Regions from separate parts of the Homo sapiens genome. Here region 1 is linked to region 2. The links come from fine-mapping of genetic effects on gene expression. A gene starts in region 2. The other region holds a variant in brackets. All regions are shown on one strand. Distances are between the middles of the regions.

What was found. PIP is the estimated chance that this variant, and not a neighbour inherited with it, causes the effect.
Region 1: its variant is the best candidate, but not a certain one, in a credible set for the expression of KCNK13 in whole blood (INTERVAL, PIP 0.79).

Annotation. Positions count from the first base shown.
Region 1 is chr14:90,099,703-90,105,073 of GRCh38, reverse strand. The region is part of intron 1 of KCNK13 (potassium two pore domain channel subfamily K member 13); the gene reads right to left. Among named protein-coding and RNA genes, the nearest start is that of KCNK13, 40 kb to the right of the region's middle. The variant G/A (reference allele first, on the strand shown) is at 3,169.
Region 2 is chr14:90,059,761-90,065,096 of GRCh38, reverse strand. KCNK13 (potassium two pore domain channel subfamily K member 13) reads right to left here and starts at 3,103. Exons shown (of 2, transcript NM_022054.4): 1 at 2,558-3,103. The coding sequence starts at 2,891. LOC124903406 reads right to left here. Exons shown (of 3, transcript XM_047432048.1): 2 at 4,186-4,695; 3 at 3,364-3,735. The coding sequence ends at 3,471. RefSeq lists enhancers at 3,161-3,660, 3,661-4,162 and a silencer at 4,411-4,800.

The DNA of each region.
Region 1 (5,371 bases), 40 kb before region 2:
TCATGCCTGTAATCCTAGCACTTTGGGAGGTTGAGGCGTGAAGATCACTGGAGGTCAGGAGTTTGAGACCAGCCTGGCCAACATGGTGAAACCCCATCTCTACTGAAAAACAAAAAATTAGCCAGGCATGGTGGTGCATGCCTGTAATCCCAGCTACTCGGGATGCTGAGGCAGGAGGATTGCTTGAACCTGGGAGGTAGAGGTTGCAGTGAGCCAAGATCGTGCCACTGCACTCCAGCCTGGGTGACAGTGTGAGACTCTCTCAAAAAAAAAAAAAAAAAAGAAAAGAAAAGAAAGTAGCTGATCCCCAAGTTCAAGACAGTGACACCTCATATGGAAAGGGACCCCCGAGACTCTTCCACCTTCCTTGCCCAACCTGGGTAGGATGGCGTCTCCCTTGGGCTTAATCTGACCATCCCAGGAGGATATGTGGCCCAGGAAAGAAACAGAATGCACATCACCTTTGTGAGACAATTCTGGCAGGATTCATCAAGTGATCACACAAAGCCTTCAAAGACATAAAAAAGATACTATTATCAAGCAAATCCCAAGAGTCCCCAAAGATAGGAATGTATGTGTGACAGGGACAAGGTGTCTTATTGCCTTCTGGGTGCTGCTGTGCCAAGAGAGAAAATGGTCTCCAGACAATGTGTTCTCAGTGAGGTTTCCAGAAACTCATCAAAGAATGGCCTATATGATCATAGATTTCAAAGATGTTACTGTTTTAGGAGGGGAAAAGGGGTCTGGAGAGAAGGCCCAGAAACCACGCAGTTCCTGACACCCAACAAGAATGCAGGGAGGGGCCAAAAGGCATTCACAGGAGGAGGAGGCACTCAGGGACATGCCAGGCTTTTATTCCAAGGTGTCCTTGAGGAAGAACAAGATTAGGAGGCTCGGCTGAGAAGAGAAAAATTCATGTCAAAGGAAAATTGAGTAGAGGAGCGAGATGAGTGAGTTTTCAGAAAAGGGTAAGATCAGGAGAGAAAAAGAGACAAGAGAAGTTGACTCCTGCCCAACAGGAATGTGAAGAGGAAAGACAGGGTCTTCAGGAAGCCTAGAGACTGATCTTATACATCTGGGTATGGCCCATGTCTCACTGAGCTGCTGAGAATGGAAGCTGAAAGGGCAAAGTCTTTAGAGGTAGGAGATACACTTAGAGATCTCTCTGGTCCAGGAGAGAGAGAGAAACAACAACAACAAAAAACTGTCTGGGCCTGGTGCAGTGACTCACGCCTGTAATCCCAGCACTTTGGGAGGCCAAGGCAGGCAGATCACCTAAGGTCCCGGGTTTGAGACCAGCCTGGTTAACATGGTGAAACCCCGTCTCTACTAAAAATACAAAAATTAGCCGGGGAAGGTAGTGGGAGCCTATAATCCCAGCTACTCGGGAGGCTGAGGCAGGAGAATCGCTTGAACTCGGGAGGTGGAGGTTGCAGTGAGCTAAGATCACGCCATTGCATTACAGCTGACAAGAGCGAAACTCCGTCCCCCAAGAAAAGAAAACCTGTCTGTCTCCCTGGGGTGGACAGGATGCCCTAGTTTTATGTGTGTTTGAATCTCCAAAAATACCTGCATTATTTTTCATGGGAAAAGGTCCTAGATAAAATAACTCAGATTGCCCTTAAAATCCCACAGATGCTGGCGAGGCTGCAGAGAAACGGGAACACTTGTACACTATTGGTGGGAATGTAAGTAATTTTGGCCACTGTGGAAAGCAGTTTGGAGATTTCTCAAAGAACTTAGAGTTACCGTTTGATCCAGAAATCCTATTCCTAGGTATATATCAAAGGAAAACAGATCATTTTTCAAAAGAGATAAATGCACTGGTATGTTCCTCACCTTGCTAGTCACAATAACAAAGACATAGAATCAACCTAGGTGCCCATCAACAGTGGATTGGATTAAGACAATGTGGTATTATACATATACAACATGGAATATTATGCAGCCTTAAAAAAGGACAAAATTATGTCCTTTGCAGCAATGTGGATGGAGCTGGCAGTCATAATCCTAAGTGTATAACACAGGAACAGAAAGCCAAATACTGCATGTTCTCACTTATAAGTGGGAGCTAAACATTGAGCGTCCACAGACATAAACATGGGAATAACAGATACTGCAGACTACTAGAGCAGGGATGGAGGGAGGCATGGGTTGAAAAACTACCTACTGGGTATAATGCTTATTACCTGAGTACAATACACCCATGTAACAAACCTGCACATGTACCTCCTGTATCTAAAATAAAAGTTGGAGGAAAAAAATCCCAGAATGTTAACAGAACTAAAATTCCCCCAAATCTAATGTCTAATATCTCAGATGAAAGCTTGGCAACTCAACTGGAAGACAGCAACCCACAGGGAGACAGAAAGTCAGTGTTAACATCTGAGACAGCACAGCCATACTGACTGAGAAGCTCTGCGGAAAAGCACTTCCCAAAGGCTATGAGGAATAATGGGAGGAATTTCATAGGGGGTCATGGGAGAGACTCTACTCTCCGTGTCATTGACTCCCAATAACCAGGAAGGCAACAGGAGAGAAGACAACATCCTGAAGGTGGCTGCATAGGGTAGGGATTGAGATGATGGGTGCTAGAGTCCAATCATCTGGGATCAAATCCTGCCTTTGCCACCCAGCATTGCAGCACAGGCAAGATTCTTACTTGATTCTTCTAAGCTTCAATTTTACATCAATTAATGAAGATACTATAGTTGATGGGAGAGTTATGAACTGAATCTGCAGCCAGTGAGCTTTCTGTATGCTGGCTGGTGTTGTTACCAGCTCTACATCACAGCTGTACATTCTGCCTTAAAGGGAATTCCTGGAGCCCGTATAGATCTGAAGGAGTCCATTTCAATGGGGGGATTTCTTTTTAAAAATTTTTTATTTCTGGCTGGGCACGTTGGCTCATGCCCATAATCCCAGCACTTTGGGAGGCCAAGGTAGGTGGATCACCTGAGGTCGGGAGCTCGAGACCAGCCTGGCCAACATGGAGAAATCCCATCTCTACTAAAAATATAAAATTAGCCGGGTGTGGTAGCACATGCCTGTAATCCCAGCTACTTGGGAGGCTGAGGCAGGAGAATCGCTTGAACCTGGGAGGCAGAGGTTGCAGTGAGCCAAGTTCGCGCCATTGCACTCCAACCTGGGCAACGAGAGCAAAACTCC[G/A]TTTAAAAAAAAAAGAAAATATTTCCATAGGTTTTCGGGGGAACAGGTGGTATTTGGTTACATGAGGAAGTTCTTTAGCGGTGACTTGTGAGGTTTTTTTTTTTTTTTTTTTTTTGGAGACGGAGTCTCACTCTGTTGCCCAGGCTGGAGTGCAGTGGTACGATCTTAGCTCATTGCAACCTCCACCTCCTGGGTTCAAGCAGTTCTCCTGCCTCAGCCTCCCGAGTAGCTGGGATTACAGGAGCACGCCACCACACCTAGCTAATTTTTTTGTATTTTAGTAGAGATGGGGTTTCACCATGTTGCGCAGGGTGGTTTCAAACTCCTGAGCTCAGGCAATCCATCTGCCTGGGCCTACCAAAGTGCTGGGATTATACCACCACACCCGGCCAACTGGTGAGATTTTGGTGCACCCATCACCAGAGCAGCATACCCTGAACCCAATTTGTAGTCTTGTATCCCTCTCCTGCGTTGCACCCCATGGGAGAATTTCTGAATGTGATGCCCCTGCCCCCTCGTCTAAGTATTGGTTTTGCCATACGAGGACAACACTCTGGTCCGGGACAAGATATGAGTGGAGACGTGCTGGGACTTCAGATCAAGATTTCAGAGAAATCAAATCTCCTGCCCATTTGGTGCCAGAAGCGATTTCAGAGAGAGACTGAACAACAAGGGCAACAGTGAGTATTTTGTGCTCACTGTGAAGCAGACATGGTTCCAAACACCCTGCCTACGTCACCTGGTCTACTCCTCAGAACAACTCTGAGGTGTGATTATTATCAGCCCATGTTACAGACTGAGAAACTGAACAGGGGATTGAAGTACCTCGAATGACATAATTCCATCATATACTGCAACCTCCTTAGTTGCAAAGCACGTGGAAGCATCTGCTTGACTCAAATATCTCGTGCTGGCCAGGCACGGTGGCTCACACCTGTAACTCCAGCACTTTGGGAGGCTGAGGTGGGAGGATTGCTTGAGCCCTAGAGTTCAAGACCAGCCTGGGCAACATAGTGAAACTCTGTCTCTACAAATAAATAAAACAATTGGCCAGGCATGGTGGGCACACACCTGTGGTCCCAGCTGCTGGAGAGGCTGAGGTGGGAGGATCACCTGAGCCCAAGAGTTGGAGGCTGCAGTAAGATGTGATCATACCGCTGCACTCCAGCCTGCGCGACAAAGCAAGGCCCCGTCCCAAGAAAAACCAACCAACCTAGTGCTGAGATGCAAATGCAATTTTAAAAGTTGCAGGTCTTCAGACTATTTTTCGAAGTCATTCCTCTGTTTCACATGGACAAATCAAAGTTATAAAAATAGCCACTACTAATCTGATGAAATTACTGCTTTCCTTTGTTCAATCCACTGCTTCACACTTTGCGGCCTCCCTAACATCCTTGGGACTGATTAGGCCTTCCTCTTCTATTAGGTAGGCAATGTTCTCTCCAGCAAACAGAAGTAGGCCTTATATCCCCGAGGTCACCAGTACCAGCCAAAAAGTAGCTTGTTGAACGTAATTTCATGCAGAATCAGCTTCCAGTTTAGATGTCATTAGGGCCAGCATTGCTGAGGTTTGAGACTTGGCCAGTGATAAATAGGTCACCAAAATGCAGCCACGGCACCTATTATAGAGTTTCTTGGGTGGAAACATGGACTCACGTGTTTACATCAAGGTTCTTAAATGAAGATATTTTTAGTTTCATTGAGTTATTTTTTACTCTGGCCAAACCCTAATTATCCAAGTGTAGATTATCTATGCTATTAACTCCAAAGTGGGATCGACTCCAAAAAACTTTATTCTGGCCCCTCGGTACTTCCTAACACAGAACATACAAATTAATTTAATATTGGCTTGCGATGGGAAGGGCAGGAGCAAGCTGAGCCTTAGGTAATGTGCAAACAGAACAGCAGCTTCAGAAGAGTCCAGAGCTGCGTGGTTAGTTGGGTTCTTAGTCTCCATCAGGGAAGGAGATGTGAGTTTTGTGTGTATGTCAAAACCAAATAAGCACAAATTTGGGACAGTCTGCCCTGCTTTTTACCTCCCCTGGAAGAAAAAATTATGTTGGTTTGGTATGAGAAAGGATGTGGCTTTGGGACCCTCCCCCTTGAGCAGAGGTCCCAGATCCTCGTGAAGAATTCTGTAAACACCTCACCCACCTATTGTCTGTCTGTTTATCTGCTGTGTGGTCAGGTTGTCACGGCTGTT
Region 2 (5,336 bases):
GAAAATGGACCAAAACATGAACAGTGGTTAATTTGGATGATATTACTGCATATAACTTGATTTTTTTCTTCTTTATACTTTATTTTACAAAAAACCTGAACCTTCAGCTTTTTCATCTATAACGGGGGAGTGTTATGCCTACCTCATGGAGTTGTGTTGGCTGAAATGAAGTGTGAATGTCACACAGCAATGAGCTGCATTGCACATTCACATAATAATCATACAGTATGTGCCTAATACGGGCCTGATAAAGGTTAGCCAGTGCTGTTATTACAACAATTAGTGAAACAATTTAAAAGGAAATGTTACAAATGAGAAATAAAAATCAGCCCACACTGACATCATGTTTTTTACCTTTTAACACGCACGCACTTACAAGAGCTCATTGTCCCTCACAAGAACCCTGTGACAGGGGCAGGCTTACGCAGACGGAGGGAGCAGGGGGCAGGACTAATATTCACCAAATAGCTGATGTGCCAGATACCAAGGTGGGCACTCTGTAGATGCCTCAGATGAGAAAAGGATGGGGCTCGGAATAGTTAAGAGGCTTGCCCAAGATACAGAGGCAGGATGAAAAGCTCCCACTCCAGACTCTTTGTCCAGGTTTCTTTCCACTCCTCCATGCCACATTGTCATATTCGTATCCCCAAAGCCCATGTTCCTATATGGCCACCTACCCATGCCACTCTCAGTTCCTGCTACATGGATGCACCTGTCCACACACACACTCTGCTCCTTCCTGCCTCTGTGCCCACTGGGAGCACCAAGAGATGGTTTTTCATGGTGGTGGGAAAGATTCAGCCATCAAATCTCCCATCAAAACCACCCTAAGTTACCATTCAATCTAAAAAAATCCTGTACTTGCTATGCAAACACAGTAGAGTCAAGGTCACTTCCAAAGTGACACCTCCTAATCAGTTTGTTCATCCCAAGTCTTGCCTATGTGGAGATTCTGGAACTGTCTTCTGGGACGTGGGAGGTGATGTGAGGAGGGGCTTGTGGAACACGGCTAAGAGTCCAGCAGATAGTGTGGGCTCAGGGGGAGAACCATGGGGGTGTTATTCCTCCTTCACCAATCTTGGGCCCATTCTGGTCTGCTGCAAGGTTTCCTGCCTGATACCCAGTTATGGTGGTGCCATCATGGCCTGCTGATGGGCCGCACCATCTGGGATGGGATGGGGGCTGGGAGCCAGGCACTTCAGATACAGCCGGTGTGTCCCTAATCATACTGGTCCTCTGCCTCGCCTCCTGTGCATCAGCTGAAGCCCTGGATTCCTGGACTAGCCCTGGGAAGTCTTTCATGATGAATCTGACCTGAAGCCAATCTCTTTTGTCTTTTGTGCTGCTTCTCCTGGCAGAATGTCTATGTAGCACAGCCATGTGTGGGAGCCTCAAGGAGGCTCAACTTGTCGCCCCACCTCACCAGCGAGCTCTTCTAGAGTGCACAGGGGCAGTAGCTACAGAGCGCTCAGCACATGCACCCTGGGCTGTTTGCAACTGCCAGCCTTTTTTGCAGCTTGGAGGCCACTTCCTCTCCGTCTAACTCTTCCAACCTCCCTCCCCTGCTCCAGGTCTCTTTTTGCCCCCCTCAGAATTTATTTCTACAGCATCTTCCCTAACCCCCATTAATCACTTGATTATTCTTCAAGGATGAACAATCTTTAGGGGTGTGGCGCAGACTCCCCCAAATCATTTTCCTTCTGCTGGGAAATAAACACAGCTGATTGTAGCTGTGCTACATCTTTGCTAAAAAATTCTCAATGGCTCCCAGGTGCCTCTAGGTAAATTCCAGCTCCTCAGTCTGTCAGTGAAGGTCCTACCCCCGCCTCCATCCCATTAGCCAGCAGACCTTCCTAGTCTTCCTTCCACCACTCCAACCAGCTCATGGGGCCCCTGAGTGCGATTCTCTCCTACTCTAGAGTGCAACCGCGCTTTCAGTTCCCAAACCCAAGTTATGCCTAACACGAATTGATTCAGCCCAAAGGTCACTTCCCTGGTTCTTCCTGGTGGAAAATTTTCCATCTTTTGAACCGTCATTGGCACTTTTGCTTCCTCACTTTCAGTCTGCTGTTCTGATTTTTTCTCGGTAAGTGTGAAGTCGAGGGCAGAATCTTTTAAAATCTGCACTTCCCCTCTGACTGACTCAGTAAATGTTTAGTTTCCTGTCCCTATCTGTAAAAGCCTTCTTCCCCATGAACTCAAGCCGTGTCTCCTTCATTAGACTGAAAATCTCCCAGAGCAGAGCGTCTCCAATTTAAGGATCATTCCAATCCTTTGGGGACTTTGTTAACATGCAGATTCTGACTCGGCAGGTCTGCAGAGGGGACTGAGACTGCATTTCTAACAAGCTGCCAGGTGACGCTGAAGCTGCCGGTGCCTGGACCACATTAGAGCAGCGGGGAGGCAATACCACCTGTTGATCAGGCGACAGCTCATGTCAGTGGAGTCTGGCTGGGCGCCCAGATGGATGAATGAAAGGATGAGAGGGTCGGTCCTGCCCCCCGGAGGAAGTGGAGGCCGCCCGGAGGTTGTCAGCGAGTCCGGCCAGCACACTTACCTATGGTGGAAACGACGGTGCCCACGAAGTAGAAGGCGCCGGTGAAGTCCCAGCGCGGGCGGACGTTGTCCACGCGGATGCCGGCCCGAGTGGCCTCCTCGTAGTGGCGGAGGAAGCCGCGCAGCTCGTCGCGGCTCAGGTTGTGGCCGCGGCTGAAGTTGGCCAGGCGCTCCTCCCAGCGCTGCTTGGCCTGGCGCTCGTGCGCCAGCTCCAGCGCGGAGAAGACGGCGGCGCCGCCCAGCAGGTAGAGCACGATGAGCGCGGCCAGCAGCAGAAAGCGCGCGTTGTCCTCGTTCAGGTGGCCCGGGCCCCAGCTGAAACCCCGGCCAGCCATGGCCGGGCCCCCGGGGGCAGCCCCCAGGCCCACGGCACCGGGCGTCGGCGGAGTCTCGCCCACACCCCCGGGAAATAAGGGCCCCGGCGCTCAGCCAGCTCCCGGGCGCCCCACCGCCGGCTCGCCCATGACCGCCGGGCTCTCCCGCAGGCCGCGAGGCTCCCCCGGCCGCCGCCTCGGTAGCTCCTGTGGCGCCAGCTCCCCACGTCCTCCTTGACTCCTAGTTTCAAATCCGCTTTGTCGCCGCCGTTCCCCTCCACTCCCCCTGCTCTCCTCGGAGTTCTCCTTAACGCTGAAGGTCCCGGGGAACGGGCGCAGAGTTCACGTCTGCTTGGCGCTGGGATGCGGGCGCAGTTTCCACCCCGGCTCCCTGTCCGGCTCAGATAGGGGAGGGGGCGTGGCGCGTCTTCAGGGCAAGCTCGAGCCAACTCGAGTTTCCCGCAAAGAGACGGTCGCGGGGCGGGGCGGGGCGGGGCGGGGCGGCGGGGGGGGGGCGCGGTCCGGAGGTCTGCGGGTAAGCAGAGCGCCGGGGTCCTGGGTCCTGGTTCCTTTGACTATCGCTTCGCAGGCCGCCGACGGCTAGGACACGGGTGTCAGTCTGCTGGCTTTGTAGGTGCCTCCCCAGGTAGATCGACGATGGTGCCTCCTAGTTGTGGTCGTGGTGTCGCGCTGAGCCTGTGGCCTCCCGAGTCTCCGAATCGGCTGCCGGGGCTTAGGGATGGAGGGGGTCCAGGGCGGGCGCACGGAGAGAGGGGCTGTGCTGAGCGGCGTCCGAGGGCTGCGGCGTCCGAGGGCTCCGACCTCCGGCCGGGCCCCAACGCTGCGCATCCGTTGGGCGGACGGGCTGGAGAGAGGAGACCAGAAAGGGAGGTTGGAACAGGGAGCAAAGGAAGTTAGGGGCTTCTCCCCCGGGCAGCCTCCCTCGCCTTGACCATGCCAGAGCGCCCTTGGTCTCTGGATCCTGCGCGGGGGCGTCCTCTGCGCCTACTAGTAGGCTCCGCCCGGACCAAGCGCGCACCGCGAGCCAGCCCCGCTTCCGGAGAGGAGGCCAAACACTGGGGGCTGGAAGGGCTCCGCGGCCAGGAGACCTTGACCTTGGAGCGTTCCATCTCTTCCCCCCGGGCTTGGCTGCCTAGTGCGTTCCAGAGTTTTGCCTGGACGCGGGGTCCGCGCAGAAGGCATCCCCCACCTCATGCAGAACAGTAGCAAGGCTCTCCAGCAAACCGCCGGGGCCCCCTCCCCGAGACCCCGCCTTGTAGCGGGCGCTGGCGCCGCTGCCGCGCTCAGATCTCACCTTCCGGGGAGCGCCCTCTCCGCGCCGCTCCGTCGGGACTGTTCCCGGGCCTCCTGGCAGCCGCGGCCCTGCCCTGCCAGCCGGCGCGCGGAGCACAGGTCCGCACCGCGCTCTGCCTTCTCAGGCGGGCGCGCTCCGACGCTGCAACAGGTAGAGCCGTGCGGCTGCCAGCTGCGGCGACTCCACCCTGTCGCCCGCCTCCTTGCGCGCGGGCCCGCCTCCTGCGCTGGTCTCCGCGGGTAGACGCTCGGCGTTCGAAGGGCCGACCCGGGGCTGCGGTGCTCCCACCAGGGCGCGCAGATCTGGGTAGTGGATGCAGAACCGGCTGGTGGGACGCTCAGCCGGTCCGCGTGGGCCCTCCGGGGCCGGGAGAGGGCGCTCTGCCCCCTCCAGACACATCCCGCCCCCGCCCGCGCACACAGCCCCGCGCGGCCCTCCGGAATCACCCGCCCGGGCGTGTGGGAGCGAATCTGTACGCGGAGAGGAATGGATACGTGGGCATCTTCCCACCTTCCGAGAGAGCGGTTTCAGGCGCAGAGCCCCACACACCGCCCTTACGCACCAGGAGCAGAGACAGAAGGGCTAGGAGCCCTGTTGAGTAAAACCGTGTGATTTCGAATAAAGAAACACAGCTCTGGCGAGTGCATTTTCATCAGAAACCCTGGTGCTGTTAGCAGTCCTCTCGGCTCTGTTACTCACTCCCCAATGCCCCTCTTTCATCTAGCCTTCTGAGGGGCAAGAGCTTTAGGGGCATCGCGAGAATGGGTGCATGTGTATACACCCAGGGTGAGTACTGCAATTACCTTTTAAATCCATTTTATTATGAAAAATTTCAAACATTCTAAAAAGTTGAATTTTACAGTGAACACCCGTATACCCACCACCTAGATTCTACAATTAACATGTTACTATACTTGATTTATTAGATATCTACCCGTCCCTCTGTCCATCCATCAACCCATCTTGTTTGGATGCATTTCAGAGTAAGTTGCAGAGCTTGGTACACTTCCGCCCTCATCCCCAGTACTTCTGCCTGCATATCACTACGTAGGGTTCAATATTTACTTGCAGAATTTTTTTCCTTTTCGGATAAAATTTACATACAATGAAATGCACAAATCTTAAGTGTATCATTAGGTGAGTTCTGACAA